Regions from separate parts of the Homo sapiens genome. Here all the other regions are linked to region 3. Evidence: fine-mapped expression QTL. A gene starts in region 3. Each other region holds a variant in brackets. All regions are shown on one strand. Distances are between the middles of the regions.

Evidence for each region.
Region 1: its variant is fine-mapped to the expression of UTS2 in whole blood (TOPMed, PIP above 0.99).
Region 2: its variant is fine-mapped to the expression of UTS2 in blood mononuclear cells (TOPMed, PIP above 0.99).
Region 4: its variant is fine-mapped to the expression of UTS2 in whole blood (TOPMed, PIP above 0.99).

The regions. Positions count from the first base shown.
Region 1 is chr1:8,100,617-8,108,723 of GRCh38, forward strand. All of the region lies in intron 2 of ERRFI1-DT (ERRFI1 divergent transcript), which reads left to right. Among named protein-coding and RNA genes, the nearest start is that of ERRFI1-DT, 78 kb to the left of the region's middle. The variant G/A (reference allele first, on the strand shown) is at 3,394.
Region 2 is chr1:7,894,966-7,903,072 of GRCh38, forward strand. It overlaps a transcript of UTS2 not described here. Among named protein-coding and RNA genes, the nearest start is that of TNFRSF9, 42 kb to the right of the region's middle. The variant C/T (reference allele first, on the strand shown) is at 4,385.
Region 3 is chr1:7,849,461-7,857,567 of GRCh38, forward strand. UTS2 (urotensin 2) reads right to left here and starts at 3,605. Exons shown (of 4, transcript NM_006786.4): 1 at 3,441-3,605; 2 at 1,352-1,462; 3 at 180-223. The coding sequence starts at 3,543. RefSeq lists an enhancer at 3,125-3,813.
Region 4 is chr1:7,917,075-7,925,166 of GRCh38, forward strand. TNFRSF9 (TNF receptor superfamily member 9) reads right to left here. Exons shown (of 8, transcript NM_001561.6): 8 at 1-3,849. The coding sequence ends at 3,761. Among named protein-coding and RNA genes, the nearest start is that of TNFRSF9, 20 kb to the right of the region's middle. The variant G/A (reference allele first, on the strand shown) is at 3,991.

The DNA.
Region 1 (8,107 bases), 250 kb after region 3:
TCACAGAATAAAGGAGAAAAAATTTCTGATATCTGTGTTGGTGGTCCCTAAGGCCTCCTCCAGATTCGCCTCCTAGAGAGGACTCACGGGCTTCAGGATCTAGTCATGCTCATGGCTAAGATTTATCACAGAGGAAGAACACAAAGTAAAACCAGCGAAGTCAAAAGGCACTTGGGGTGAAGTCTGGTGTGAGTTTCCAAAATTCATTTCCTCGTGCTGAACTCCCTCAGCAATGAGTTGTGACATGCGTGAAATGTTGTCTTCTAAGAAACTTGCAGAGACTCGGAGCCCAGGGTTTTCACAAGGGGCTGGTCACATAGGCGACCTTTGCATGGCACATACCAAAATTCCAGACTCCCCTCAAAAAAGGAAAATAGGTGTTCAGCGTAAACCACATGGTTTGTACCAAACAGGTTAGGCAACGTGAGACTCTCATGAGGCCTGGGAATAACGGGAACCCTCCTAAAATCTAAGTCGCAGATGCCAGCCAAAGGCTAACATTTGCAAACAGGACTTTCTTTATTTTTGATTTTATTATTATTATTATTATTATTATTATTATTATTTTTGTGTGTGTGATGGAGTCTCACTCTGTTGCCCAGGCTGGAGTTCAGTGGTGGGATCTCAGCTCACTGCAACCTCTGCCTTCCGGCTTCAAGTGATTCTTCTGCCTCAGCCTCCCTAGTAGCTGGGATTACAGACGCCTGCCACCACACCCAGATAATTTTTGTATTTTTAGTAGAGATGGGGTTCCACCACATTGGCCAGGCTGGTCTCAAACTCCTGACTTCAAATGATCAGCCCTCCTTGGCCTCCCAAAGAGCTGGAATTACAGGTGTGAGCCACCGCACCTGGCTGCAAACAGGACTTTCAAAGGAGAGCAGTCCCAGCCCTGCCATGTTAACTCTTCTCTACACAGTATCTCAGTAGATGTACCCCGTTCCCCCGAAAAGAAAACACTTCTGAAAAAATTTCATACCCACTCATAAACTCTCAGCAAATTGGTCATAAAAGGGAACTGCCTCAACCTAATGAAGGACAGCTTCAAAAAAACCCTACAGCTAACAATATCCTTAATAGTGAAACACTGCTTTTCCCTGAGATTGGGAAAGGACAAGGATGTCCACGCTCACCTTTGCTATTCAACATGTACTGGAGGTCCTCATTCGTGCAATAAAGCAAGAAAAATAAATAAAACCCACACATATTGGAAAGATGTAAAACTATTTTTACTCACAAGCAACATAATCTTGAACATAAAAAATCCAAAGGAATCTACCAAAATCAAAACAAAACAAAACATGTTATTAGCTATAAAGAGTGAGTTTTTTAAGGTTGAAGGATACAAGGTCAATATTAATTGAAATTTCTATATACAATTGCAAAAAATAGTTAAATTTCTATATGTAATAGTAACAAATTGAAATTCAATTGAGAATTGAATTTTTCAATTTTCAAACAATTGAAAATTCAGATAAAAATACCACTTACAATAGCTTCAAAAATCATGAAGTACTTAGGGATAATCTTAAGAAAATAAGAATAAAACCAATCTATAGAAAACTCTAAAATACTGCTAAGAGAAAATTTAAAATATAGAAATAAATAGGTAGCTAGACCATGCTGTGGATGGGAAGACTCAATATTTTTTTAAATGTCAATTATCTCCAAATTAATTTGTAGAGACCATGCAATGCCAAGTAAAATTTTAGCAAAGCTTTTGTAGCAAATGGTAAACTGCTCTTAAAATTGATGTGGAAACAAAAAGAGCCCACAAAGAACCCAATAAACTTATTTTGAAAATAAAGAACAACATTGGAAAATTCATATTACCTGATTTCTGGATTTAATATTCAGCTTCGGTAATTAAGACGGTGTGGTATCACTACACAAATAGACAGCTCAATAGAACAGAAAAGTGAAAACAGACCCACATATACCTAGTAAATTGATATTTGACAAAGTAGCCAGGATAATTCAGTTGAGGGGAAAGACAGTCTTTTCAACAAATTATGCAGGAAAAACTGGACATCTCCGTGGAAAACAGGAGCCCCGATGTTTATCTCATACCTTACATAAAACTAGCTTGAAATGGATCATACACCTTAACATAAAACTTAGAGATGAATATATAGGAGAAAAATCTTTGTAACCTTGGAATAGGCAAAGATTTCTCAGCTAGATATAAAAAGTATGAACTATAAAAGAATTGAAAATAGACTTCAAAGTTAAAAACTTTTGATTTTGGCAAGACACTGTTAAGAAAATGACAAGGCAGGTCACAGACTGGGAGACAGTATTTTCAGTACAGCAAGCTCATGAAAAGATGCCCCATATCATTAGATATCAGGGAAATACAAACTAAAACCCCATTGGAAGGCTAAAATTTAAGAACATGACAATACCAAGTGCTGGTGAGAATGTGGAACACCTGGAACTATCGTATGTTTACGGTCGTCATTCAACATGGTAAGACCGCTCTGGATAACAGCTCCACCATTTCTTATGAAGTTATATATGTGACTTTATTCCACTCCTAGGCATTTATTCAAGAGAAGTGATAGCACAGGCTCACATAAAGACATTTACCAATAAAGACATTGAGTCTTTATTCATAATAATTGTCAAAGAACCAGAAACAACCCAAATGCCCATCCACAGTGAATGAATACATTGTGACATGTCTATAAAAATGAGATTATTTTGAAATACAAAGGAACAAATTAATGATTCATATGGATGGATTTTAAAAACATGCCCAGTGAAAGAAGCCAGGGTATCTACTGTATGATTCTATTTATATGAAACTCTAGGAAAGACAAAGTGAATCTAGGGCCGGGTGTGGTGGCTCACGTCTGTAATCCCACCACTTTGGGAGGCCAAGGCAGATGGATCACCTGAGGTCAGGAGTTCGAGACCAGCCTGGCCAACATGGTAAAACCCTGTCTCTACTAAAAATACACAAATTAATCGGGCGTGGTGATGGGTGCCTGTAATCCCAGCTACTTGGGAGGCTGAGGCAGGAGAATCACTTGAACACGGGAGGTGGAGGTTGCAGTGAGCTCAGATCGTGTCTCCACACTCCAGCCTGGATAACAGAGTGAGACTCTGTCTCAAAAAAAAAAAAAAAAAAAAAAAAGCAAATCTAGAAGACAGGTCTCTGGTTGCCTTGGGCCAGGAGGGGTTGGTCCAGATTTACCAGGCAGGGACGTAAGGGAACCTTTTAGGGTGATAGAAATGTCCTTTATCTGTTTTTTTTGTGTGTGGGTGGGTTTTTTTTTTTTTTTGAGACGGAGTCTCACTCTGTTGCCCAGGCTGGAGTGCAGTGGCACAATCTAGCTCACTGCAACCTCTGCCTCCCGGATTCAAGTGATTCTCCTGCCTCAGCCTCCC[G/A]AGTAGCTGGGACTACAGGCATGCACCACCACACTCCGCTAATTTTTTAATTTTTAGTAGAGATGGGGTTTCACCATGTTGTCCAGGCTGGTCTCAAGCTCCTGACCTCAGGTGATCCATCTGCCTCAGCCTCCCAAAGTGCTGGGATTACAGGCGTGAGCCACTGTGCTCAGCCAGAAATATTCTATAGCTTAATCGTGATGATGGTTACATGGGTGTACATATTCATCTGTCGAAACTCACGTTGCATACTTAAAGTTTATACATTTTATGGTATGTAAATTATACCTTAATGAGGTTGAGTTTAAACCTCCAGAACTTTTCTCATCTTGCGTGATTGAAACTGTGTGCCCATTAAACAACCCCCCACTCCCTCTTCTGCAGCCGCTGGCAACCACCATTCTACTTTCTGTCTCTATTCATTTGGCTGTTCTCGGTACCTCATGTAGGTGGAATCATACAGTGACTGTCTTTTTGTGACTGCCTTATCTCACTTAGCATAATGTCTACAAGGCTCATCTATTCAAATTTTTTTGAGGGGCCATTATAATGATTTTTTGTAATGCATGGCAGCCTTGCTCCTTGCCATATTGCCGCCCCCTAACCCCACATGAGTCCCAGCTTCAGCAAATGACTCCCATCTGGTGACGTCATTATCCCCATCTTCTGCTCCAATCATTGCCATTCGCCCAGAGTTTAGAAGGGGCTGCAGAATAAGGAAGTGCACGGGCTGGGGAGAAACAGCATGTTAGGTAAGGAGAATTCCCCTTAGACAGAAAGAGGAAACACAAGCCCTTTCACTAGGGACAAAAGTCAAAGCTGACAAGACTGAGATTAAGACATTGCCTAGAGCCCTCAGGTCAACAGAGAGCCCTACTTCCTGCATCCAGTGGTTTACCTTTTTTTTTTTGGACATAAGGTCTTGCTCTGCCACTCAGGCTGGAGTACAGTGAGTGGTGCCATCGCGGCTCACTGCAGCCTTAACCTCCTTGGCTCAAGAGATTCTCCCACTCTGCGTAGCTGGGATCACAGGCACGAGCCACCATGCCTGGCTGATGTTTGTATTTTGGTAGAGATGGGGTTTTGCCACGTTGCCCAGGCTGGTCTCGAGCTCCTGGGCTCAACCATTCCTCCCGCCTAGGCCTCCCAAAGTGCTAGGACTACAGGCATGAGCCACCGTGCCAGGCCACTTGATCTACCTTTTAAGACACACCTTGGCGTGCCTGAAGTCAAACCTTGACACAAAGCTGAGACACGTGTTCCCAATCATCTAACTCCATAGTGTCATTTGCAGATAGAGGTCGTGGCAGCAAGTAATCACAGTTTCTATTGACCATATGGAGGTATGAAGGCAACTGCTTCATTAATTTTTTGAAGCCAGTGATTATTAAGGATGGAATCTGTTATTATTTCAATGTTTATTGAGGACCCATAATGTGCTACACACTTGTTTTGATCACCAAATAAACAGTCTGCAAAAAGCAATATGGCTGTGGTTGCTTCAAATTTCCAGGTCATGGGGACCAGTTGCAAGGGAAGCATGAGTGACTGGATAAATATTAATGAGCATCATGTGGATGAGCATAGGGAACCTATATTTAAGGTAATATAATTTAAACTATATTTAGGAGGAGGATGCTGTCTGAGGTGTTGATTATAACCCAGGAAGGAGATCCGTAGGTCATAGTAACCAAGTCAGACCATGCTGGGGACCATCTGCAGGTGTGTTGGAAACAAAGTATATTTTCATGCTATTGAATGTATATTGGGTGAACCAATGAATAAACGAACAATTTTAGCAAATCACTTGTCTTTCTGGCTCTCAGGACAAACACCAAAATGGCCTTGCTATTAAAATGTAAACCTTTTCTTTCTTCCTGAACCAAGACTCTCAGGCCGTGCAGAGTTTCTGTTCTTAACTTTGGTTTCCTTGGCTGGGCACGGTGGCTCACACCTGTAATCTCAGCACTTCGGGAGGCCGAGGTGGGCAGATCACCTGAGGTCAGGAGTTTGAGACCAGCCTGGCCAACATGGTGAAACCCTGTCTCTAATAAAAATACAAAAATTAGCCAGGTGTGGTGGCGGGCACCTGTAATCCAAGCCACTTGGGAGGCTGAGGCAGAAGAATTGCTTGAACCCGGGAGTCGGAGGTTGCAGTGAGCAGAGATTGCATCACTGTACTCTAGTCTGGGTGACAGAATGAGACTCCGTCTCAAAAAAAAAAAAATTTTTTTTTGGATTCCAGTGTGAGACTCCTTATTAGGAAAAACATTGTTGACTAATACATGGTTATCTAGTCCTGTGGTGACAACCTATTTTTCATGAAGTCAAGTCAGGAAAAAGAAAAAAGATTTTTAAAAAAAGTCCCTATTTAAAATCAGAATAGATTTGAGACCCATAGAAAATATGTAGACTTAAAAAATTTAGATAATCTTATTGACTCAGTAATAAAATGCCTTTGAGAAAAATGGAACTGCATTGCTAACATCAGCTACATCAGTCTGTAGTAAAATGAAAATCTTTTCTAATCTTTTATCCAGAAATTAGATCTTGGCCTGTGTAATGACAAGAATTGGTCTATATGTCCTTCATCACGGATGTGGCCCTTTGTGGCTTAGGTTATTGGCTGTGACTATCACTGGTGAGACGTGCTCCCTGCCTCTTCCCTCACGCCTTCTACCCAAACAGCAGTATAGCTTAAAATAAGGAATTTAATGACTGGTGCAAGATATAATAATACTTTAGCCATATTGTGTATAACATATGTAACCATAATGTATATAACATACACATGAGAATTAAAACATGCTGTAATTAGAAAGATCATTACATTGTTTGTAATTAAATATTTAAGTACATGCCCTGTGTCAAGCGCAGTACAAGCTGTTGGGCAAAAAGGACTAAGCAATAATAAAAAAGACATAATGACGAGTGCCAATGAGGAAGTGGAGAAACTGAAAGCCTTGTACACTGCTGGTGGGATTTTAAGATGGCGCAGCTGCTTTGCAAAGCAGTTTGGCAAGTTCCTCAAACAGCTAAACATGGTGTCACCATATGACCCAGCAATTCCACAACTAATTATGTACCCAAGAGATACGAAAATATATGTCCGTGAAAAACTTGTACACAAATGCTCATAGCGGCATTATTCCTAATAGTAAAAAAGCAGAAACGACCCAAATGTCCATCAGCAGATAAATGGATAAGTAAAATGTCACGTACATCCACACAGGAGTGTTATTTGGCAATAAAAAGCAATAACCACATGCTATGCTGTGGTCTGAATGTCTGTGCCTCTCCCATCCCCCAAAATTCCTATGTTGAAACCTGATCTCCAATGCAAAAGTATTAAGAAGTGGGACATTTAAAGCTGGGCATGGTGGTGTGTGCCTGTAATCCCAGCTACTCGGGAGGCTGAGGCAGGAGAATCGCTTGAACCTGGAAGGCAGAGGTTGCAGTGAGCCGAGATCGCACCACTGCACTCCAGCCTGGGCAACAGAGATACTCCGACTCAAAAAACAAAACAAAACAAAACAAAATTGTACCTAAAATTCCCCATACTTTTAGAAATTTAAAAGTTTCTAAATAATGTAATATAAAATAAAATATCATTATAGAAACAAGGAAGTATTTGAGAGTGAATGAGAAAAATAATTACACATTAGAACTGGAAGAATCTTGCTAAAGCAATAATTAGAGTAAAAATTTTAGCCGTAAATGTTTCTTTATATTAGAAAGGAACTGCTGCTGTTAATTAGTGAGCCAAGCATTCAGTGTAACAAATTGGATTAAGGACTTCGGAATGAATGTGAAGAAAGTAAAAACAAGGGAATACTCAAAATAAAAACAGAAATCAGTGAAATCGATAACAAAGAAATAGAAAGGATTCATAAGGAAAAATGGGTTCTTCGAAAAGACCAAAAAAAGAAACACTCACTTCAGCAAAACTGATCAAGGCCAGAAGAGAGAAGGACCAAGTCAAGCCTGAAATAGGACCCATAAATACAGGCCCAGCAGAGCTCCAAATGATAAGAGGACCCTGTAAACATCTTTAAGACTATCCACTGATAAGTTACCAGAGCAAGATACCTTATCAACAGTGACTCAGGAAGAAATAGTAAACCTGCCTGGTTCTAAACCCATTAAAGAAATTGAAACAGGCCATGTGCCTTGCCTCATGCCTGTAATCCCTGCACTTTGGGAGGCCAAGGAGGATCACTTGAGTCCAGGAGTTCAAGACCAACCTGGACAATATGGCGAAAGCCCATCTCTACGAAAAATACGAAAATTAGCCAGGGGCGGTAGCACGTGCCTATAATCCCAGCTATTCAGGAGGTTGAGGTGGGAGGATCACCTGAGTCTGGGAGGTCGAGGCTGCAGTGAGCTGTGATTGTGCCACTGCAATCCAACCTGGGCAACTGAGCAAGACCCTGTTTCTAAAAAAAATAACAAAGAAATTGAAACAGACAATAAAATCTCTCCTCAAGGAACTATCGAGCCCAGGTATTTCTACAGGTAAGTTTACCAACTGTTCAAAGAAGTAATAATCTCAGTATCGCACACTCTTCCAAGTCACAGGAATGAAGAAAAGACTCCCTAATGAATTGAGACCCAAATCAATTTGTATAAGCACAAAACTAAAAAAGCAGGCAAGAATGGTACAAGAAAGGAGAATTCCTGATCAATTTCACTCACGAACATAGCTGTAAAAATC
Region 2 (8,107 bases), 46 kb after region 3:
TTACTTATTTTTTGCCTCTATTATTTTTTATATCTGTCCAGATGTTTAATTTGTATCTTCTTCGTCGGCTTTGTGCATAAGGACAGCATATGACTCAATTTGTCGGTTAAAATTAGGCCTAGGCCTGGCACGGTGGCTCACACCTGTGATCCCAGAACTTTGGAAGGCTGAAATGGGTGGATCACTTGAGGCCAGGAGTTTGAGACTAGCTTGGCCAACATGGGGAAACCCTGTCTCTACTAAAAATACAAAAATTAGCCAGGCATGGTGGTGGGCATCTGTAATCCCAGCTACTCAGGAGGCTGAGGCAGGAGAATCCCTTGAACCCGGGAGGCAGAGGTTGCAGTGAGCTGAGATTGAGCCACTGCACTCCAGCCTGGGTGATAAGAGCGAGACTCCATCCCAAAAAAATAAATAAATAAATAAAAATTAGGCCTAAACTGAAAATGTCTACAGTGATCTTTTTTCCCCCTTAATCCTATTCCCTTTAACTCTTAGGGAACAGAGTGATTCAAAGCTGCTGTGCTTAGTGCAGGAGAAAATTCTCAGGACTGAAAATCTCAGTAAAAGGAAGATGAGGAGTGCAGGCTTGTTTTAAAATCAGTAAATTGTCAATTATTAATTGACAGATAACTACCATCTGACGTGATGGAAACTGAAAAATCCTCCTTCAAAATAAGAGCCAAACAAGAGCTTGAATTGCCCAATCTCAACTTTTTACTCAAAAATCGCTAAAGTTCATTCAGGAATTTCATTTTGTAACTGAAATAAAAGAGTTGGATATGCTTCATGGGATCTGTGTATATTGAAAAAGCAGTTTTATGAATTATTGATAAAACTCTATTTGAGTGATTTTCACTTCCAAATTACATGAGGTTTCTGCTTCTACATTTTCTTAGTCCCGGCATATTTGAGGATATGCGTCAAGCCATTATGGTACAAAGTCTGGGTTCTCTCCATTTTCCAAGCCAGTGCTGGATATGCTAAACCCTAGATGCAACATGCACCTTTATATCAGTACTTGAGATAAATGACAGTCTGTGTTTCTGTCATCAGACAAGATAACAGAAGTAAAGGGAGCAAATGCCACATCTCCCTTTCAAATGAAAATGCTCCTGAAAATGCTTCCCAAGGAAAATATTATCAGTGTAGAGTAGAATTGTTTTCTAGGTGTTATTTGAACTTCAATATCTCAGTTAAGCTCAAAAACTGTGTTTTCATTTTTTCTGTAATTAGATACTTGAGTTCTCAAAAGTGATATTGCAGATAAGTGGGGAAGGGATGTTTATCCATGAAAAAAAAAAAAAGTGTCCCTACCTCACACCAAACATAAAAATCAGTTCTAGATGGATTAATTAAGACAGAGGTTAAAACTTCATCAAATTAAACCTAAACCCAGATGGCTTTACAGGTGATTTCTACCAAACATTCATGTAACTGAGCATTAATCTTATAATATTGAAGTATAAATTATAGGCTTTGAATACAATTTTAATATTTGTGTGTGTATGTGTGTGTTGTTCTTAGTGGAAAATGAAATGTTCCTGAGGAAGTCTTTAAGAAGTTTTAAAATGTTATTCCATATAGGTTTAGAAAAATAAATTATTTTATTATGTAAAAATTTTTATAATATAGTCACTGTAATATCTGATAAGATTTTCTGTGCCAGATGCTAGACTTTTTTCAATTTTTCTTTGACAATTAGGTTCATCAGAACCTGTATATTGAAAAAGAAGCTTTTTTTTTTTAAGACAGAGTCCCGCTCTGTCTCCCAGTCTGGAGTGCAGTGGTGCAATCTCAGCTCACTGCAACTTCCACCTCCCAGGTTCAAGCAATTCTCCTGCCTCAGCCTCCCCAGTAGCTGGGACTACAGGTGCGTGCCCCCATGCCTGGCTAATTTTTGTATTCTTTTAGTAGAGATGGGGTTTCACCATGTTGGCCAGGCTGGTCCTGAACTCCTGACCTCAGGGGATCCACCCACCTTGGCCTCCCAAATTGCTGGGATTACAGGCATGAGCCACTGTGCCTGGCTGAAAAAAAAAAGCTTTATAAATTATGTATAAAATTATATTTGAGTCATTTTCACTTCCAAATTACATGAGATTTCTGTTTCTACATTTTCTTTGTCTTGGCATATTTGATGATGTGCATTGAGTCATTATATAGCTTCTAAGAATCTGTTTACTTTTTACTATGTTAACAATGAGTTCTTGGGGATATTCCTGTTTGAAAATCACTGTACGTGTAGTAAATCTATTTCTGGGATCTCCATTCCCATTCCATTGGTCAACTTCTTTTTCCTTCTGCTGATACCACACTTTGTAAATTACTACATCTTTTAATGCTTGTTTATCTGGTAGGGAAAGTCCCTGTATCCTATTCTTGTTTAGGAATGACTGGGCTATTCTTCACCCTTTGCTTGTTTATATAAATTTTAAAGATTTTAGAGTCATATTGTCAAGTTCCTTGAAAATCCCTGTTGAGACATTTATTGAAACTGTACTGACTCTATAAATCAATTTGGAGAGAAAGATATCTTTACAATATGGAGGCTTTCTATCCATGAACATATTATGTCTCTCCATTTTTTAGGTCTTCTTTAATGTCTTTCATTAATGTTTCATAATTTTTTTTTGAGACAGAGTTATGCTCAGCCTGTTGCCCAGGCTGGAGTGCAATGGTGCGATCTTGGCTCACCACAACCTCCACCGCCCAGGTTCAAGCAATTCTCTTGCCTCAACCTCCTGAGTAGCTGGGATTACAGGCACCCGCCACCACGCCCGGCTAATTTTTGTATTTTTAGTAGAGATGGGGTTTCACCATGTTGGCCAGGCTGGTCTCGAACTGCTGACCTCAGGTGATGCACCCACCTCAGCCTCCCAAAGTGCTGGGATTACAGGCATTAGCCACCGTGCCCGACCATGTTTCATAATCTTTATATATGTCGCATCCTTCTTTTGGTAGAGCATTCCTAGGTACCTTCTGGTTTTGTTGTTACTATGCATTGTTGCTAATAGGTTACAAGTCAACTGATTAATGTACATTAATATTATGACCAACCATCTTGATAAACTTCTCTTGTTATTTCTAGTATTCTACAGATTTAGGGTTGTCCATGTATACAACCATGCCATCTGCAAATAAGAATGGTTTTGTTTCTTCCTTTGGAATCTTCAAAATTTAAATTTCTTTTTTCTTGTCATAAGTTACTGTCTAGAAACCCCAATACATGTAAAATATAAGTGGCGATTGTTTTGTCCAAACCTGTGGCTGGAGTTACCCCCAAAAGTGGAGGCAGGGGAATTCCCAAAAAGGAGTACCGCAAGCTGTCCTGAGATCAGGCCAGTTAAATTTACAAAGAAAAAAAGCACTAAATGCCAGCCTGGAAAAAAGCATTTATTAGGGGAACTTATATACCGAGAACTGCAGAGTACCCTCAAGATGGACAGAGAGAGAAGGGGTGCTCTGACCAGGTATCTCACAGCAAGGGGGCTCAGAATATAGAGTTTTGTTTTTTGTTTTTTTTTTGAGACGGAGTCTCACTCTGTCGCCCAGGCTGGAGTGCAGTGGCGCGATCTCGGCTCACTGCAAGCTCTGCCTCCCAGGTTCATGCCATTCTCCTGCCTCAGCCTCCCGAGTAGCTGAGACTACAGGTGCCTGCCACTACGCCCGGCTAATTTTTTTGTATTTTTTAGTAGAGACGGGGTTTCACTGTGTTAGCCAGGATGGCCTCGATCTCCTGACCTCGTGATCCACCCACCTCGGCCTCCCAGAATATAGAGTTATATGAAGGTTTGGTCCAGAGCTAGGGACAGTTTTTTTCAAGTAAACCTAGATACTTTCATCAGTGCCTGGAAATGTTCAAGGCCCTGATTTGGGTTCAAGCCTGTTGGACAAAACCTATACAGTTGGCTGGGTTACTGTATTAGTCCATTCTCACACTGCTATAAAGAAATGCCTGAGACTGGGTAATTTATAAAGAAAAGAGGTTGAATTGGCTCGAGGTTCCATAGGCTGTACAGGAAGCATGGCTGGGGAGGCCCTGGGAAACTTACAATCATGACAGAAGGTGAAGGGGAAACAGGCACATCTTACATGGCCAAAACAGGAGGAAGAGAGAGAGGAGGGAGGTGCCACACACTTTTTAACAACCAGATCTTGTGAAACCTCATTGACTATAATGAGAACAGCATCCGCCCCATGACCCAATCACCTCCCACCAGGCCTCATCTCCAACATTGGGGATTACAATTAGACAAGAGATTTGCTGAAGACACAGATTCAAACCATATCAGAGAGCAGTCAAGGCAATCTGATTTTCGGTAAGGACACAGAAAGAAAACAGAGGCCTGAGGGACCCTACAGCGATCGTGACCATCTTTAT[C/T]CTGTTTCAGCTCATAAGTAAAACACTTTCAACATTTTCTCATTAAGAATAATGTTTACTTTGAGTCGATGCAGTTAGGTGTTTTAAAAAAATAAAATAATAATGTTTACTAATTTTTTTCTTTAGATATCCCTTATCAGTTAAGGAAGTTCTTATCTAGTCCTTTTTATTTTTTGAGACAAGGTCTCACTCTGATGCCCAGGCTGGAGTGCAGTGGCGTGATCATGACTCACTGCAGCCTCAACCTTCCCAGGCTCAGGTGATCCTCACACCTCAGCCTCCTGAGTAGCTGGGACTACAGGCACGAACCACTGCACCTGTCTTTATGATCTTTTTTAAACACTGTTAGATTTTGTTTGTGAACTATATTAACGTAAGAAGTTATCCCACAATTTAGTGTCTTGAAACAGCAAGCATTTGTTATAACATGTTTTCTCAGGAGTCCAGGAGTGGCTGAGCTATGTAGTTCTGGCTCAGGGTCTCTCAGGAAGTTGTGGTCAATGTGTTGGTCAGAGCTGAAGTCATCTGGAAGCTTCACGAGGGAAAGACCTGCTTCCAGGCTCACTGTGTGACTGTCAACATGTAGGCCTCTCAGATACAGCAATTGGCTTCCTCCAGAGACAGCAATCGCAGAGAGAGCGAGAGTGTACCCAACCCGGAAGCCACAGACTTTTTATAACCTGGAATCATCAGATGCAAGTCACTCCATGCTCAAGTGGAGGAAAGCTTAGCTCCACTTCCTGAATGTAGAAATATCAAATGAATGGCCAGGCACAATGGCTCACACCTGTAATTCCAGCACTTTGGGAGGCCAAGGCAGGAGAGGATCACTTGAGCTCAGGAGTTCAAGACCAGCCTGGGCAACATAGTGAAACCTCTTCTCTATAAATAATTTAAAAATTAGCCAGGCACAGTGGTGCATGCCTGTATTGCCAGCTACTCAGGAGGCTGAGGTGAGAGGATCACCCGAGCCTGGGAGGTGGAAGCTGCAGTGAGCCTTGATTGTACCACCACACTTGGCCTGGCGACAGAGCCAGAACTTGTCTCCAAAAAAAGAAAGAAGGAAAGAAGGAAGGAAGGAAGGAAGCGAGCAAGGTAGGTTAAATAATGTGTGGGCATGAAACACCACATTAATATTTTGTTTTGGCCAGGTGTGGTGGCTCACGCCTGTAATCTCAATACTTTGGGAGGCCAAGCCAGGTGGATTACCTGAGGTCAGGAGTTCGAGACTGGCCTGGCCAACATGGCAAAAACCCCATCTCTACTAAAAATACAAAAATTAGCCAGGCACAGTGGTGGCTGGCGCCTGTAATCCCAGCTACTCAGGAGGCTGAGGCAGAAGAATTGCTTGAACCAGGGAAGTGGAGGTTGCAATGAGCTCAGATCATGCTACTGCACTCCAACCTGGGCTACAGAGTGAGATTCCATCTCCAAAAAAAAAAAATTGTTTCATGTTTTTGCCTCTTTTTCTTTTACTGTCCTTGCCTGGTTTTAGTATCAAGGTTACACTGGCCTCACAGAATACCTAGGAGAAGATAAACCACTTTCTTCTATTCTCTGGAAGAGTTTTTATAAAATAGGAATGATCCACTCCATGAAAGTTTAAGAGAACTTACCTGGAAAGTCATCCAGGTCTAAGTTTAATTTGACAAAGATTTTTACTTCTGTTTCAATTTCCCTAATCATTTTATGACTATCCATACATTTTCTTTCTTCTTAAGTCAGTTTTGGTAAGTTACGTTTTTTCTAGGGAATTGGTCATTTTGTCTGAGTTTTCAAATGTATTGGCAAAAACCCGTTCATAGTAGTCTGTTATCGCATGGTAAGCTTTCATTCTACATAGATTAAGTAATGGAGCTTGGATGTGAAGCAGGCTATTGGAAGACTACTGCAGTAATCCAGGCCAGAAATAACACAGGCATGAATTAGGACAGTGAGAGTAGGATGTGAAGAATGGATTGGATTCTAGAAATACACACTGGGATTTGTTGTTTCATTAAATGTGGGTGGTGAAAGAGAGGAAAGAGTCAAAAGGTACTAATCTGATGTCTGCCTTGGAGAGGAGGTGGAAGGAGCTGCTTTATGGAGGAAAATGTTAGCATTTACTGTAAAGGTTTCCATTCATTGAGGTGTTCTATGGATCAGGCACTGTGCTACTTGCTTTATATGTATACATGTATATGCTATATACATATGTATGTATGTAAATATATACATACAGCTGCTATATACTTGGATGTGTATATATATTCATCTATGTGTGTGTGTGTGTGTGTGTGTGTATATATATATTTATATTCTCATTTAATCCTCACAAAAAGCCTGTAAGGTAGGTGCTATTGTCTTCATTTTACAAATGAGGAAACGGACTTCGTGTGAGGAAATGGACTTCGTGGAGGAGATGGTTCAATCCAGTGCCACCAAAACAAAAACCCTCGGCCAGTTTGGAACATCCTGGGTTTGAGATGCCTGTGAGGATCCACACAGACTGGCCCAGCAGATCACGGAACGTGTGAGGTCTGTAGGGAAAAGCATTTGAGAAAGAAGGAACAGCAAACTCCAATGTCCTAAGCCAGAGAAAAGTTTAGTGGATTCAAGGAGCAGAAGGAAATCCAGCGACCCTAGAGGGAGTGGGTGCGAGGGAGAGGGTGATGGATGAGGTGGGAGAGAATGACCGGGGTGGCTGAGAGCAGGGCTGGACTCAGCGCTGGTAACACCAGGCTGGGAGGGAAGCTTTGGGGCTCTGTGGCTCTGGGTAGGGAGGACTGCGGAGGGTGGCAATTCCCCACCAGCTCCTACAACAGGGTCTGGGATCAGACACAGCCTTTGGGCTCCAGGCTATCTCTGCCCCCGGGTGAGGGTTATACAGACCTGACTCCTTCAGGGAGAGTTTTGTCCTGATGGGACCACCCTGCTTTTTTGTATGGAAGTTAGAAATTATCTTCTCTCTGGGCTCTGGGCAGATTGCCTGTCTCCTCAACAGGGAAGGGGTGATTCTCTGGGGGAAAGCGGGAAGTCGGGGAAGTTCTGACAATGTAGTCATTTTGGTAAAGACTCTGAAAATCATTCCCATTCACATCACAGGGGCCTAAAGATGGCCTGGGTCGTCAGTGCGGCTTTTTCTATACTTCCACTCCCCATACATTTTCTTTCTTTTGGCGACTTGCACATCATTGTTGGACTATTAAGTTATGGGGGAAGGGCGTCCCTACTAAGGAGCCTCCTAATTCTTTTTGTTGTTGTTAATCTAATTTTTTATAGGGACGGGGGTCTCGCTATGTTGGCCAGGCTGGTCTTGAACTCCTGACCTCACGTGATCTTCCCACCTCGGCCTCCCAAAGTGCTGAAGAAGTGAGCCAGCTTCCCCGGCCAGCGCCTCCTATTTCCTTCCCTTTAATTAGGCGGCACGTTAGCCTTTAACAGAGGCGGGCCACTGGCGGCGTGGTTTCAGGTAAGTCGCTGAACCTCTTTAGCCATCTCCTTCCCATCCCTGAAGAAGAGGCCTAAATTAGAGAATGCGGGGTTCCTTCCGCGCTCAGAGCCTTCCCTTTGATCCCGAGGGAGGCCTGCGCGCTGGTGGTGTCTACTGCCCTCTTGTGGTAGAGCGTTTTTTGTTCTCCAGTTTACTGTCTGGCTTTTCTCCCTCCCTCCCTCCTTCCCTCTTCCCCTCCTTCCCCTCCTCCCCTCCTTCCCCTCCTTCTCCTGCTTCCCCTCCTTCCCCTC
Region 3 (8,107 bases):
TCGGCCTCCCAAAGTGCTGGGATCACAGGCATGAGCTACCGCGCCTGGTCATGCTGGCCAATTATTTTAAGGTGTGGTTTCCACCAAGAACACTCCTCTAGTTCATGAATTCAGAGTCCTGTAAAACCAGTACAGAATGTTCACCTTTTTAAACCTAACTCATAAATAGAGTCACTTACCTTTCTCAAATTTCCTCTTGGGTTAAAAATGTTGGTACTTGAGTCTGAAAAACAGTTTTGAAGCCAGTTCATCAGATCTGTTGTTTCTCTTGTATGCTTGTTTTAAAATATACAAAATAATATTACTAAATTATGTCTAGTTTCTGGTCTTTTTCCACACTGCAGCAAGCTTTTCTTGAATGCAGACAGACAGGCACTCCTGTTCTTATCTCGAATTCACAGAAGTCACTGCATTGTCCTCAGTAACTTCGCAGTCCAGTAGCTCGTCAAAGATATTTTATAACAAATGAACTCCTGTCTATTAAACAATACCTATCTTAAAAGGCTCAAATTTTTTTTTTTTTTTTTGAGACAGAGTCTTGCTCTGTTGCCCAGGCTGGAGTGCAGTGGTGAGATCTTGGCTCACCACAACCTCTGCCTCCTGGGTTCAAGCAATTCTCCTGCCTCAGCCTCCCTAGTAGCTGGGATTACAGGTGCCCGCCACCATGCCCGGCTGATATTTGTATTTTTAGTCGAGATGGGTTTTCACCATGTTGGCCAGGCTGGTCCTAAACTCCTGACTTCAAGTGATCCGCCCACCTCAGCCTCCCAAAGTGCTGGGATTACAGGTGTGAGCCACCGCACCCAGCAAAAGGCTCAATTTTGTTTCCAGAACTTCCTGAGCATATGTGTCAATGCTTGGGGGAATGTGGCCACGGGGGAATAAGCTGACATTTTATTAATGACTTTCTGTGTGACTCGAGCATTTTACTTGCCTTGACTCATTGACTCTTCACAAGTTACCTTCTGAGGTGGAAACTTAATCATTCCTGATTACAGATTAAGAAACTGGAGTACAGAAAGATTACTTTAAGTTTTCAGTAAACGGGAAACTAGGATTTTAAATTGCACTCACTGGAAACTGGAATAATTACCACCAAGCTCTACCCCGCAAAAATAAAAGTCCACACAGAAAGACAAAATGCTGAGGTACCAAAGAGCACAGTGCGAGCAAGGAGCTGCTGGGGAAAAGAAGGTTGCACAGGCCGGGAGGGGAGAGTGTTGGTAATTACTTATTTTATATAGCTCATCTTTATATTCCAAAATAGAGCTTTACCTCTTCTAGATGAGGACAGACGGTAAGTTCAGTAGCAATTAAATCAGACACGCTATAAACATGAGAAGCATTTTACCTGCTTTCCTGAGAATATCCCCTCTTTCTGCACCCAGCATCTCTGGCAGTATCTGTAGAAGGGAAGCTCTTTCTAGCTCCTCCGGAGTTAAGCGCGCGTCTTCATGAGGTGCTACAGAGTAAAAACAGATACTTAGAATTGGGTTCATCCTTCAGTTAGTTATTTCTGTTCCTTGTGTCTTTGGCGAGCACCAGAGATAGGGAGATGAACACTAGAAAAACTTCCAACGCTGAGTTCATGACGTGTCATCAGTGGTATTCTAGAAGAGGTGGAAATGCTACCAGCCCGTGTGCCAGCCAGCAGAATGGGAAGCCGGGAGACGTGGATCTGACACCCGCGTGATGAGCCAAGCCCCTCGGCTGCCTCGAACAAGAGCTGAGGGATAAGCCACAGCCTTTCTCAAAACCATTTTGGTTCAAAAAGTCTGACTCTCCCTCATTTCTGCTTATCTACTGCTGCCTACTGCCTTTTTGCTTTTAGATATTTGGGTGGTGACATTGGAGAGGAAAAAGAAAGATCGTTTACAATCTTCCTATAAAGCCAGTAGGATGGTATCACCTCTTCTTTTACTGAACTTCAAGATTTCAATACAATTATTATACTTAGAATTGGCTTCAAAATCATCTGTAAGGAACTTGATTGTGGCATTTCCTATGTGAAATGTGGTCGACCAGATGGCATATAGAATGCATGGTAAGTGCGCTTAAGGTGTGTGGAAAGGGCACACCGGAGTGTGAGGCGTGGTAAGTGCAGACCTGCTGCTGTGTTGCGATTCGAGGCTGTGGGAGTCAGGGTGGGAGGCCATGTGTGGGACCAGCGTGCCACAGGCTTACAAATAGCTGCAACCTTGATTGGAGGACAGTGAGCAGATCATCATAAAGGCATCAGAGCACATTCACAGCACTTCTAAAGACTGTTAATGAAAATCTATAAAATTTCATCATCTGTAAATGCTGATAGGAAAGCACATTTCTGGAGAAATAAATGAGAACAAATTCTGCGATAAGCTGCCACTTGTTTCGAATTTGTGTGAGATGCTACACTCATTTCATCTATGTTTCTTAAATTACTTGTAAAATTTTTTAAGATGACAGTAGTAGCTGAGTATTTTCACTTATTTCATCTTGAGATGTGTGCTGTTTCTTTGTAAATAGCAGAGATTCAGTAAAGTTAATGCCAGTGTTTAACTATTAGTAGGACAGCCAATGATCATCTCGGTGACTCGGGAAGTTGGTTGGCAGTGCCTGATGACAGTGCTTGACGATCATCAGAAAGCTGCTTGGGATGAACTTTTAGAGACGAGAAACTATAAAATCCTTGGCTTAAAAGAGGGTTTGTTTGTTTTTTTTCTTTATTTAAAAAAAGCCTATTTAAAAAGTACTCAAGATTAAAGATAAGATTAAATCTAGTTAAGTTTTTGATGGAACCTAATCCCCAAGCATTAGCTTTCTCATTTCTCTAACTAAATGGAAAGATAATGGCAAAATGAGAAACTACTTGACTGATGTGTATTTCTTTAACTCAACTTAGACTTAAACTGAATTAACATAAATCAAAAGGAAACGATCAATATACTTGGAAGTCTATGAACTCCCTAGTTCCCTAGTTTGTCATTTACTAAAAAATTTTTAGTAAACATTTTTGTTTCGTAGAACACATATCAGATGATTTTTTTAAACAAAAGGTGAAACAAATAAATCCATTAATAATCTATAATTAGAACAACCAGTGCTACATTCAACCAGTTCATTTAAAGTAAAAACTAAAAGTAATGATGTTTTAAATTTCATGCAATTTTTAAAATTGGAAAAATGTATATATTACCCAAAACAAGAGTACAGAGGTAACATGAAACAAGCAATTATCCTCTTCTCCTTTTACATTGTAGAGACAGAAAAAAAACTGTATCCATTACTACATCTAAAATGTGCAGTAAGGATCCTTTAATATTCTTTTCAAAGCTGGGACTATTGAGAGAACAAGACTCCAGACTCCTTCGAGCAGGAATCCCATTCTTATCTCTAACATTGAATTTAAGACTAGTAAAGGCTCTTTCAAGACTAACATAAGGGGAAAAAAAAAATCTTACCTGAGAGTTGAAAGGATATTTCCCTGGAGTCAAGGAGAGGAAGAGATAAGAGAGGATTTAAGAATCCTATGAAAAGCAAACAGCAGGAGGCCAGCTTATACATGATCGCCACAAGATAGACGGCTTCCTTCTTGGCTTCTGTTGTAGAGAACTTTCAACTGTCTCCTCATTCTGCCTGCTCACTGATTATATATATCATCCTATGACCTGACATCATCCTCTCCAAAAAAAAAAAAAAAATGAATTTATTGGCTATGGAGGCTAAAAGGCAATCACTTTGCATTGATGTAATTTTTCAAGGTAACAAGTCATAGACAATAAATTAACTGTCTTGTTGCCTAGTGTACAAAGTAGGTATTATATAAAGAACAGTGAGTTTATAAATCTGGCAAAAGAGGCAACTTACAGCAATAAATCATGAATTAAAGGAAGGCTTGGATATGAGTTGAAGTGGCCAAAGCAAAGAGACGTGGATTTATGAGTCCGAGCAGAAGTGACGCAGAGCATAAGATGAAATACGTTGGTTTCCATTTTTTAATCTTTCATGAGTGAGTAGATGAGTTGCCATGCTGTGTTTAGGGCTGCCATCCCTGAAGAATGACAATCTGTGGATTAAAACGTAAAACCAGCTATTTCCTTTAAAACAGTGAAAAGTTAAAATACATAGCAAACATTGCTCCAGGCTCAAGACAATTCTGTACATACACGTGGCCTCATGTGAAGCCGCAAGCACTTCAATCTTCAGAGAAAGGAAATAACTTCATAAAGTTGATTATTATTCAGCAAGGAGGGAGGAAGGACTTAACACCAGAAAACTCGCTGATAAACATTTCCAGAATGTGGCCTCTACTCCCAACTGTACTCTGCCCAAGCTGGTCCAAGCCCGGATGGGTGGAAAGGTCCCCGACAGGCGTCCTGAAGTCTGCCTTCGGGCCTGCCACAGGCTCAGCACAGCAGAGTGATGCCAGAAGCATCTGCATAAGTCAGATCATGGTAGTTCTTTGCTCAAAACTTTCTGTGGACCTAAACACAAAAGTTACAAAGATAGGCCAGGCACGGTGGCTCATGCCTGTAATTTCAGCACTTTGAGAGGCCGAGGCAGGAGGATCACTTGAGTTTAGGATTTCAAGACCAGCCTGGGCAACATAGAGAAACACTGTCTCGGCCGGGTGCAGTGGCTCACGCCTGTAATCCCAGCACTTTGGGAGGCTGAGGCGGATGGATCACGAGGTCAGGAGTTTGAGACCAGCCTGACCAACATGGTGAAACCCCGTCTCTACTAAAAATACAAAAATTAGCCAGGCATGGTGGCACGTGCCTGTAATCCCAGCTACTCAGGAGGCTGAGGCAGGAGAATTGCTTGAATCCAGGAGGCGGAGGGTGCAGTGAGCCAAGATTGCGCCACAGCAGTCCAGCCTGGGTGACAGAGCGAGACTCTGTCTAAAAAAAAAAAAAAAGAGAAGGAGAAACACTGTCTCTACCAAAAATACAACAATTAACCAGGTGTGGTGGTGCATGCCTGTATCACTTGAGCCTGGGAAGTTGAGGCTGCAGTGAGCCAAGATCGTCCCACTGCACTCCAGCCTGGGTGACAGAGCGAGACCATGTCTCAAAAAAAAAAAAAAAAAGAAGAAAGAAAAGTGGTTACAACGTAATGATAGAACTACTAGGGGAAAAAACATGAACACCTTCACAACCTCAGGTTAGGCAAATATTTCTTAGACAAGACACAAATCACACAGGAAAAAAATTGAGACAGGAGGAATAAGTTCAAGAGATCTATGTACCTCAGGGTGACTCTGATTAATAACAATGTATAGTTGAAGATTTCTAAAAATCGATTTTGTGTTCTCATCACAAAAAAATGCTAAAAACGTGAAGTAATACACATGCGAATTAGCTTGATTCAGCCATTCCACAATGTATGCATATATCAAAACATCAAACTAATAACAATAATAATAATAATAATAATCATGGCCAGGCACAGTGGCTCACACCTGTAATCCCAGCACTTTGGGAGGCCGAGGCAGGTGGATCACCTGAGGTCAGGAGCTCAAGACCAGCCTGGCCAATGTGGTGAAACCCTGTCTCCACTAAAAATACAAAAATTAGCTGGGCGTGGTGGCAGGTGCCTGTAGTCCCAGCTACTTGGGAGGCTGAGGCAGGAGAATTGCTTGAACCTGGGAGGCAGAGGTTGCAGTGAGCCAAAATCACACCACTGCACTCCAGCCTGGGTGGCAAGAGCAAAACTCCTTCTCAAAACAAACAAACAAGTCATGATGTATACCATAGATACCATTTTTGTAAATTAATCAATAGATGAACAAAACTGATAAATTGGACTTTATCAAAATTAGAAACATTTGCTCAAGATACTGGTAAGAAAATGAAAAAGCCGAGCAAGGCGCGGTGGCTCACGCCTATAATCCCAGCATTTTGGGAGGCTGAGGCGGGCAGATCACCTGAGGTCAAGAGTTTGAGACAAGCCTGGCCAACATGGTGAAACCCTGTCTCTACAGAAGATAAAAGAATTAGCCAGGCGTGGTGGCGGGCCCCTGTAGTCACAGCTACTCCGGAGGCTGAGGCAGGAGGATAGCTTCAACCTGGGAGTCGGAGGTTGCAGTGAGCTGAGATCATGCTGCTGTATTCCAGCCTGGGCAATATGACAAAAGGTTTGAAAAGGACTTCAGGCTGGTCTTGACCTCCTGGCCTTAAGTGATCCACCTGCCTCAGCCTCCCAAAGTGCTGGGATTACAGGTGTGAGCCACCACATCTGGCCATTATTATTATTATTATTATTATTATTTTATTATTTTGAGACAGGATCTCACTCTGTCACCCAGGCTGGAGTTCAGTGGCGTGATCATGACTCACTGTAGCCTTGACCTCCCAGGCTCAAGCAATTCTACCTTGGCCTTCCAAATAGCTGGAACCACAGGCACATGCCACCACGCTCAGCTAGTTTTTTTTTTTTCAGATGGGGTCTCAATGTGTTGCCCAGGCTGGTCTCAAAATCTTAACCTCAAGCAATCCTCCTGCCTCAGCCTCAGCCTTCCAACCCTCTGGGATTACAGGCGCAAACCACCATGCATGGCTTTTTTATTTTTTGTACAGACAGGGTCTTGCTATGTTGCCCAGGCTGGCCTCAAACTCCTGGGCTCCAGAGATTCTCCTGCCTCGGCCCCCGGAAGTGCTGGGATTCCAGGTGTGAGCCTCCACACCTGGCTATCGCACTATTTTATGTATTTATCCTTTATAGTAGGCAGACTCGATAAATATTTGTTGAATCAGTGAGTGGGGCACCAGCCTATGGGAGTCTCTGTTTAGGGGAAAGAACGGTGAACAAAATAAAAAGTTTCTACTCTCATGAACTTTCTGACTGGAGGCGATAGACAACAACATTAACATACGCTGTAGGAATTGTTTATTGCTATGAAGAACAATAACAAGGAGACAGTACAGGGGCAGGTAGTCAGGGCAAGTGTGATTTCAGACAGGGCCCTCGGGATGCCCTGGAAAAGGGGCATCTGAGCAGGAGCCGAAAGGAACAGGGCAGCCATCCGTTCAGTGGTGAGTGGAGTGTGGAGCCTCCAGCGAGAGAAGTCGGGGAAGCGTGGCCTCCGAGGAGGAGGAACTGAAAGAAGATTCCTGCGAGGGCAAATAAAGTGAAGAGAGTCCCTGGGGGACCCCTGCTGGCAGGAGAGCCCAGGGCGAGTGCTCGCACACTGTCCTCTAAGATGGAAAGTGCTCGAATCACTTAAGACTTGTTAACTCTTTCGACAGATATTTCTCAGCACCCCCATGTGCCAGCAGGGTCGGACAGAGGACGGAACCTAACGTCCAAGAGAAACCACTTCCATCCAATTTAAGAAAACAGCCGGGCACGGTGGCTCAGACTTGTAAGCCCAGCACTTTGGGGGGCCGAGGCAGGTGCATCACCTGAGGCCAGGCGTTTGAGACCAGCCTGGCCAATATGGTGAAACCCCATCTCTACTAAAAATACAAAAATTAGCCGGGAGTAGTGGTGGGCGCCTATGATCCCAGCTACTTGGGAGGCTAAGGCAGGAGAATTGCTTGAACCCAGGAGGTGGGGGTTGCAGTGAGCCGAGATCGTGCCATTGCACTCCAGCCTGGGCCACAAAGGAAGACTCTGTAGGAAAAGAAAGAGAGAGAGAGAGGGAAGGAAGGAAGGAAGAAAAGGAATGAAGGAAGGAAGGAAGGAAGGAAGGAAGGAAGGAAGGTGAAGCATGTTGGAAAGACACTGGATAGCTTCCAGAATCCCAGGAAAAGTGGAGGAGCAGGGACCAGGATCCCACTGGCCTTCTGACCTCTGCCCTCTGCCCTCAGTGACTTGACTCCTCCCTCTTCCCTCCTTCCTCTCCCTACTCACCCTTGCTCTCCCCACAATCCTCCATCTCTCCTGTAATTCAACCTTTTGGCCTCAATGCCCTAAATAAGTGCATTAAGTATCAAAATGTAATTTTGGTAACCATTAAAATAGTAACCAAAAGATTATAAAAACTTGGAAAATATAATAAAAGAACTAGAATATCAGGTAGTTACTACTATGTTAAAAAAAAAAAAAGATGAGCTTGTGGGCAAGCACTGGTGGTGTCATTTTACAGAATTGAAAATAAAGGGATTTTTTTCTTTTCTTAAAATGT
Region 4 (8,092 bases), 68 kb after region 3:
ACATGCCACCATGCCTGACTAATTTTTGTATTTTTTAGTAGAGATGGGGTTTCACCATGTTGGCCAGGCTGTCTCAAAACTCCTGACCTCAGGTGATCCATCCGCGTCGGCCTCCCAAAGTGCTGGGATTACAGGCGTGAGCCACCGTGCCTGACCTAGCTAAGACACTTCTGAAGTAGAAAAAGAAGGTGGAGGGAGATGTCCTACCGGATATCGAGAGCTGTTACAAAGCTATTGTAATAAACACAGTGTGATACTGGCACAGGATAGACAAATTGACAATGGAACAGAACAGGGAGCCCAGAAGCAGACCCATGGCCCTATGGAAACTTGATGGATGGTAGGTGAGATTGCAGACCCGCAGGAGAAAGACGACGTATTGAATACATGGCGCAGGGACCAGTGGTTACCTACATGCAAGACATGGAATTGGATCACTACCTCCCAACAGGCACAAAAGCCAGTTCCTGATACATTAGACTTCAAGATGAAAGACAAAACTTAAAACTTTTGGAATAAAATGTGGGCAAACCTCTTTATAGTATTGGGCAGAAAAGGATTTCTTTAGCCAGGCAAGAAAAAATGTTAACCATATGAGAAAACAGTTATAAATTTAACCAAATCAAATGAAGAACTTTTTGCTTATTACCAGAAAGACAAAGAAAGACACCATTAATTAGAGAAAAACAGGAGGGGCGCGGTGGCTCATGTCTGCAATTCCAGCACTTTGGAAGGCTGAGGTGGGAGGATCACTTGAGCTCAGGAGTTCAAGACCAGCCTGGGCAACATAATGAAACCTCAGAAACCTCACCTCTGCTAAAAATAAAAATAAAAAAGAATTTTATAAAAAATTTTAAAAAGGGAAAAATAAATTACAAAGGATATATATATATATATATATAGATATAGATAGATAGATAGATAGATAGGCAGAATTTCACTCTTGTCACCCAGTCTGGAGTGCAATGGCACAATCTTGGCTCGCTGCAACCTCTGCCTCCTGGGTTCAAGCGATTCTTCTGCCACAGCCTCTGGAGCAGCTGGGGTTACAGGCACCCGCCACCATACCCAGCTAAGTTTTGTACATGTTTAGTAGAGATGGGGTTTCACTGTGTTGGCCAGGCTGATCTTGAACTCTTGACCTCAGATGATCCACCCACCTCAGCCCCGCAAAGTGCTGGGATTACAGGTGTGAGCTACCGTGCCTGGCCACAAAGAAGATATTTTTTAACACATATAACTGACCAAAGATTATTATCTAGAATACATAAAGACCTTTTAGGAATCAGGACAAACAACCACATTTGGGTTTGTTTGTTTCTGAGAAAAGGTTTTTCTCTGTTGCCCAGGCTGAAGTGTAGTGATGCGGTCCCAGCTCACTGCAACCTCTGCCTCCCAGGCTCAAAGCGAACCTACTGAGTAGCTGGGACTTCAGGTGCACACCACCACACCCGGCTAATTTTTGTATTTTTTGTAAAGACAGGGTTTCGCCATGTTGCCAAGGCTGGTCTCGAACTCCTGGGCTCAAGCGATCTGCCCACCTTGGCCTCCCAAAGAGCTGGGACTACAGGCATGAGCCACTGCACCCGGCCCCAAGTTTTTTTGCAAATGGGCAAAAAAGCATGAGCAAGCATTTTATTTAAAAAAATAAACACAAATGGTATATAAATATTTGACAAGGTGCTCATCAGTAACCAAGCAAATGCAAACTAAGACCACAGTGAGATCTCATTCTATACCCACTGGCTTGGCAAAATTAAGGGCACCTGATAGTACCAGAGGGTAGCAAGGATGTGGATCAATGGGATACTTACATGACACTTATATGACTGACGGGAGTACATTAGAACAGCCACTTTGAAAAGCAATTTGGTACTGCAGTAGACTATTGTTCAGAAATATCTTCTCCTCACCCCTATTTACAGAATATACTTTTCTGCCCTATTGATGCCTGGCTTGGCTGCAGGATTTGCTCTAAAGGTTATAGTAGAACCAACTAAATAGGAGCAGAAGTGACAGATACCCATTTGCCATGCGATGGCCAATGTTCCAAATAGAAGCTGCTCCCTCCACCTAAATCCCAGAGTAAAATAACATGGGACAGAGGCACGCAAGCTTGCAATAGGCATGTCATACAAAAGTGTAAGAAATGGCCAGGCATGGTGGCTCATGCCTGTAATCCCAGCACTTTGGGAGGCAGAGGTGGGCAGATCACCTGAGGTCAGGAGTTTGAGACCAGCCTGGACAACATGGTGAAACCCCGTCTCTACTAAAAATATAAAAATTAGCCAGGCGTGGTGGCACATACCTGTAGTCCCAGCTACTTAGGAGGCTGAGGCAGGGAGATCACTTGAAACTGGGAGGCGGTGATCCAAGATTGTACCACTGTACTCCAGCCTGGGAGACAGAGTGAGACACTGTCTCAAAAAAAAATAAAATGAATAAAATTTAAAAAGCTATCCTTAGATCATAAGCCAAACAATGGCAGGCATGCCAGGTTTGCACCTGTAATCCCAGCTACTTGGGAGACTGAGGCGGGTGGATCACTTGAGCCCAGGAGTTTAAGGCTAAAGTGTGCTATGATTGTGCCTGTGAATAGCCACTCCATTCCAGCCTGGGCAACAGAGCAAGACTGTCTCAAGCAAACCAACAGACAAACAAAGGCAAATGGTGCACCAGGTTTGGCCATGGGAGTTTGGCGGCCCCCACTCTAGTGCTGTGGTAGGACAATGAGCTCACAGGTGTTAATTTTCTCACTGTACTTCATACCTATCATATGCAGTTCATTTATTGGCTTTGGTATAAAATATTATGTTAAAAGTTAAGAATTTTTAGAATGTAACCTGGCTTAAAAGGGAGCAGGACAAAGGCAGAAGGTGTGAGGATGGAGAAGACCATAGGATATACAGACACTTGAACTCTTTCCAAAACTTCCTCCAGGCCTGAGGTTTTTTGTCCTTGACCCTAAACTCAGGCACTCTGCTCATACTCCCCCCTGACGGTGGAGCATGTCGTGTTACATGACAGAACCCACGGAAACTTTAGTCGGGTACTTACTGCACCTCGTGGCTTATTGTCATATGTCATATTAGCACCAAAAAACAAACCTGCATTGATTTTGATTATAATTATAGTTGGACCACTGGACTATGTAATTGAATTTAAACTATAATTTTCTTTGGATTTCAAAAAAACTAGCTCAAACCTGTTAAGTGGTATCTAGAAAATGCTTTTTTTTTTTTTTTTTTATCACCAGCTCTGTCCTCATCTGTCTGTTCTGTTAAAAGTGGTGCATTATTTTGGCCGGGCCTGGCAGTTCATGTCTGTAATCCCAGCACTTTGGGAGGCCAAAGTGAACCTAGGAGTTTGAGACCAGCCTGTACAACATGGTGAAATGCCATCTTTACCAAACAAAAAACAAAAAAGTTAGTCAGGTGTGGTGGCCCTTCCTTGTAGTTCCAGCTACTCAGGAGACTGAGGCAGGAGGATCACTTGAGCTCCCAGAGGTCAAGGCTGCAGAGAGCCATGGTGGTGCCACTGCACTCCAGCCTGGGTGACAGAGTGAGACCCTGTCAAAAAAAAAAAAAAAGTGGTGCATTTTTAAAGGCCAACTCATTGGCATTTAGAAAAGAACGTGTGTTGGGGGAATCCTGGGTATTATGTAGGATGGTGTTCTTGCTTTTGAAAGCTGTGATAGCGGATGACTCATATTTCCTTGCTTCTTTTCAAGAAAGTCCCAACAGCCCTATTGACTTCCATTTCACAGTTCACATCCTCCTTCTTCTTCTTCTGGAAATCGGCAGCTACAGCCATCTTCCTCTTGAGTAGTTTGTACTGGTCTCATAAATGCTAAAAAAAAAATTTTAAGATACGTATATTTTGTTGTCTATTTGAATCATTTAACACTTATTTTCCATAAATTATAGCTGCAGAACATCTCTAAGCAGCAAACATTCTCCCCTTTAATTTTAACAAACTCAGCCAGGCGTG[G/A]TGGCTCATGCCTGTAACCCCAGCACTTTGGAAGGCCGAGGTGGGCAGATCACTTGAGGTCAGGAGTTCAAGACCAGCGTGGCCAACATAGCAAAACCCCATCCCTACTAAAAATACAAAAATTAGCCGGGCGTGGTGGCAGGTGCCTGTAATCCCAGCTACTCAGGAGGCTGAGGCAGGACAATTGCTTGAACCCAGGAGACAGAGATTGCAGTGACTTGAGATGGCGCCATTGCACTCCAGCCTGGGTGACAACAGCGAAACTCTGTCTCAAAAAACAAAACAAAACAAAACAAAACAAAACAAAACAAAACAAAAACAGGCCGGGCGCAGTGGCTCATGCCTGTAATCCCAGCACTTTGGGAGGCTGAGGCCGGTGGATCACAAGGTCAGGAGTTCAAGACCAGCCTGGCCAAGATGGTGAAACCCCGTCTCTACTAAAAATACCAAAAAAATTAGCTGGGCGTGGTGGTGGGCGCCTGTAATCCCAGCTACTCGGGAGGCTGAGGCAGAGAATCGCCTGAACCTGGGAGGTGGAGGTTGCAGTGAGCTGAGATTGCGCCACTGCACTCCAGCCTGGGTGACAGAGTGAGACTCCATCTAAAAAAAATTATAATAATAATAGTAATAATAATTTTAACAAACTCATCCACAAGAGAGGTAACAGCAAGGATGAACTTCCTCTAGAGATTATTTGAAATTTGTTTCCTCTTACCAAATATTTGTATTGGTCTTTAAGAACTATTTTCTTTATTTTCTACATTAGCTAAAAAAGCATGAATCTTAAGCATGAATCACTAAACCATAAAATATTAGCCATATCCCAATCATAGCTCTAGTTTCAATTCAGCAGCACTTATTTTCGTCTTGAGGGTTACTGAGATTCGAGATCCGATGGTTTCCTTGGAATGCAGTGTTATGACTCCAGGATTGTGAAGGTATCCCCACTGCTTCCATCTGTTAGGAACCAAGAACCGATCTGTGCGTGAGCTGCCAGGCTTTCTTTTACATGTTAGTGAAGTATTTGTGTTACTGCTCCGCAAATTTCAATCCTAAGCAGATATTTATTTACAGACTGGCAAGGCAAAAAGTCCTACCCCGATTTCATATGCTTGTTGCTATAAAAAATAACCACACCATCTCCTAGAACTTATGAAAAACTGGCAAGATGTTCAGAAATACCAACGGGATGTCTTTTGAAATTGTTCCCAGGTTGAATTTCAAAATGGAGATCTCTTCTGGAAAGATTGAGATGTCATGTTTTCCGTATTTGTCCTGCTGAGTACTGCTGAAAACCTCTCAGAAAGGCAGAGAGAGGAAGGCCAATTGGGTCAGGATCTCCAGACCCAAGAAACAACATGGCAATGGGTTTCTTTCTGCCTCATTTCCCTCTGACTGGGAACTAGAGAAGCAGCACTCTAAAAATGCCAATAGCGTGGACAAAACAAAGCAAAAACCAAGAAGAGGCCAGGCGTGGTGACTCACATCTGTAATCCCAGCACTTTGGGAAGCCAAAGCAAGCAGATCATCTGAGGTCAGGATTTCGAGACCAGCCTGGCCAACATGGCGAAACCCTGTCTCTACTAAAAACACAAAAATTAGCTGGGCATGGTGGCGCTCACCTGTAATCTTAGCTATTCGGGAGTCTGAGGCAGGACAATGGCTTAAACCCAGGAGGCAGAGGTTGCAGAGAGCTGAGATTACACCACTGCACTCCAGCCTGGGCAACAGAGCAAGACTCCATCTCAAAAAAACACATAAAAAACTAAGAGGAGCTTGTACTCTCTAGTTATGAGACCAGGAAAGGGGCAGCATAGCAAGACTACAAACTTCTTTTTTTTTTCTTTTTTTTTTTTGAGATGGAGTCTCACTCTGTTGCCCAGGCTGGAGTGCAATGGCGTGATCTCAGCTCACTGCAACCTCCGCCTCTTGGGTTCAAGCGGTTCTCTTGCCTCAGTCTCCTGAGTAGCTGGGACTACAGGTGCCCGCCACCAGGCCCGGCTAATTTTTGTGTTTTTAGTAGAGATGGGGTTTCACCATATTGGCCAGGCTGGTCTCAAACTCCTGACCTTATGATCCGCCCATCTGGGCCTCCCAAAGTGCTGGGATTACAGGCGTGAGCCACCACACCTGGTCCAAAAACTTCTAGACAATAACCACTCAATTCTAACAAAACACCACAAAAAACACCGTGGCTCCGCCTGCAAGCCCACCAGGAAGGACTGAGTAGAGAGCCTGGACTTCCACCCTCACGGCTGATTAAGGCTCATCTCCCCCTCCCTCCTGGGGTAGTGTCAGAGGAGGCCTAGTGGGAGCTAGAACTCCCACGTGTCTAGCAGTAAAAAGGAGACCCTCACCCTCCAGGAGGTATAGCATAGAACCCAAACTTCCTCCACCCCTGCCTGGCCGTAACGAGCTGCCCATCCTCCTTCCTTCCCTAGAGTGATGTCAGAGGAACCCTGAGAAAATACAAGATCTAAATTAGATCCAGAAACTGGGTGTGGGGGCTCACGCCTGTAATCCCAATACTATGGGGGCCAAGGCAGGAGGATCGCTTGAGTCCAGGAGTTCTAGACCAGCTTGGGTAACAGAGCAAGACCCTGTCTCTACAAAACATTTAAAAATTAGCCAGGGGTGGTGGCACATGACTGTAGTCTCAGCTACTCTGGAGGCTGAGGTGGGAGGATCACTTGAGCCCAGGAAGTTGAGGCTGCATTGAGGCGTGATCATGCCACTGCACTCCCGCCTGGGTAATAGAGCAAGCAAGACCCTGACTTCTAAAAAATTTTTTTTTTACTTAGGCCTAAATCTAACAAAACACATACAGAACTTGTATAGTGAAAACTACAAAATGCTGGTGAAATAAATTTTAAAATGTATAAATGAAGAGACATACTATGTTCCTGCATTAGAATACAGTCATACAGCGTACAACAACGTTTTGGTCAAAAACAGACTGCATATATGATCGTGGTCCCATAAGATTATAGTGGAGCTGAAAAGTTCCTATTGCCTCGTGATGTCCAACCATCATAACATTGCAGCACAGCTCATTGCTCACGTTTGTGGTGATACTGATGTAAAAAACCTACTGAGCTGCCAGTTGTGTAAAGTGTAGCATATGCAATTATGTACAGCACATAATCCTTGACAATGACAATAAATGACTATGTTAGTAGTTTATGGACTTACTATACCATACTTTTTATAGTTATTTCATAGTATATTCCATATATATATATATATATATATATATATATATATATATATAACCAGTTAAGGCCGGGTGTTGTGGCTCACACCTGTAATCCCAGCACTTTGGGAGGCCAAGGCAGGTGGATTGCCTGAGCTCAGGAGTTTGAGACTAGCCTGGGCAATTTGGTGAAACCCTGTCTCTACTAAAGTACAAAAAATTAGCCAGGCATGGCGGCATGCACCTGTAATCCCAGCTACTCGGGAGGCTGAGACAGGAGAATCCCTTGAACCCGGGAGGCAGAGGTTGCAGGGAGCCGAGACCGCCCCATTGCACTCCAGCCTGGGCAACAGAGCAAGACTCCTCTCAAACAAAAAACAAACAAACAAACAAACAAACAAAAACCAGTTAATTGTAAAACAGCCTCAGGCAGGTCCTTTGGGAGGTATTCCAGAAGAAGACATTGTTCTCATAGGAGATGACAGCTACATGCATGTTTTTGCCCCAAAGATCTTCCAGTGGGACAAGATGTGGAGGTGGCAGACACCAACTCTGTGTGGGTCTAGGCTAATAAGTGTGTTCGTGTCTTAGTTTTTCACAAAAAAAGTTTAAAAAGTAAAAAGCAATTTAAAAACTTTTAAATAGATAAAAGCTTATAGAATAAGGAAATAAAGAGAAAATATTTTTGTACAGCTGTACAATGTGCTTGTGTTTTAAGCTAAGAGTTATTACAAAAGAGTCAAAAAGTTAAAAAAAATTTTTTTTAAGTTTATAGGCTGGGTGCGGTGGCTCATGCCTGTAATCCCAGCACTTTGGGAGGCCGAGGTGGGCAGATTACCGGAGCTCAGGAGTTCGAGACCAGCCTAGCCAACATGGTGAAACCCCATCTCTAATACAAAAATTAGCCAG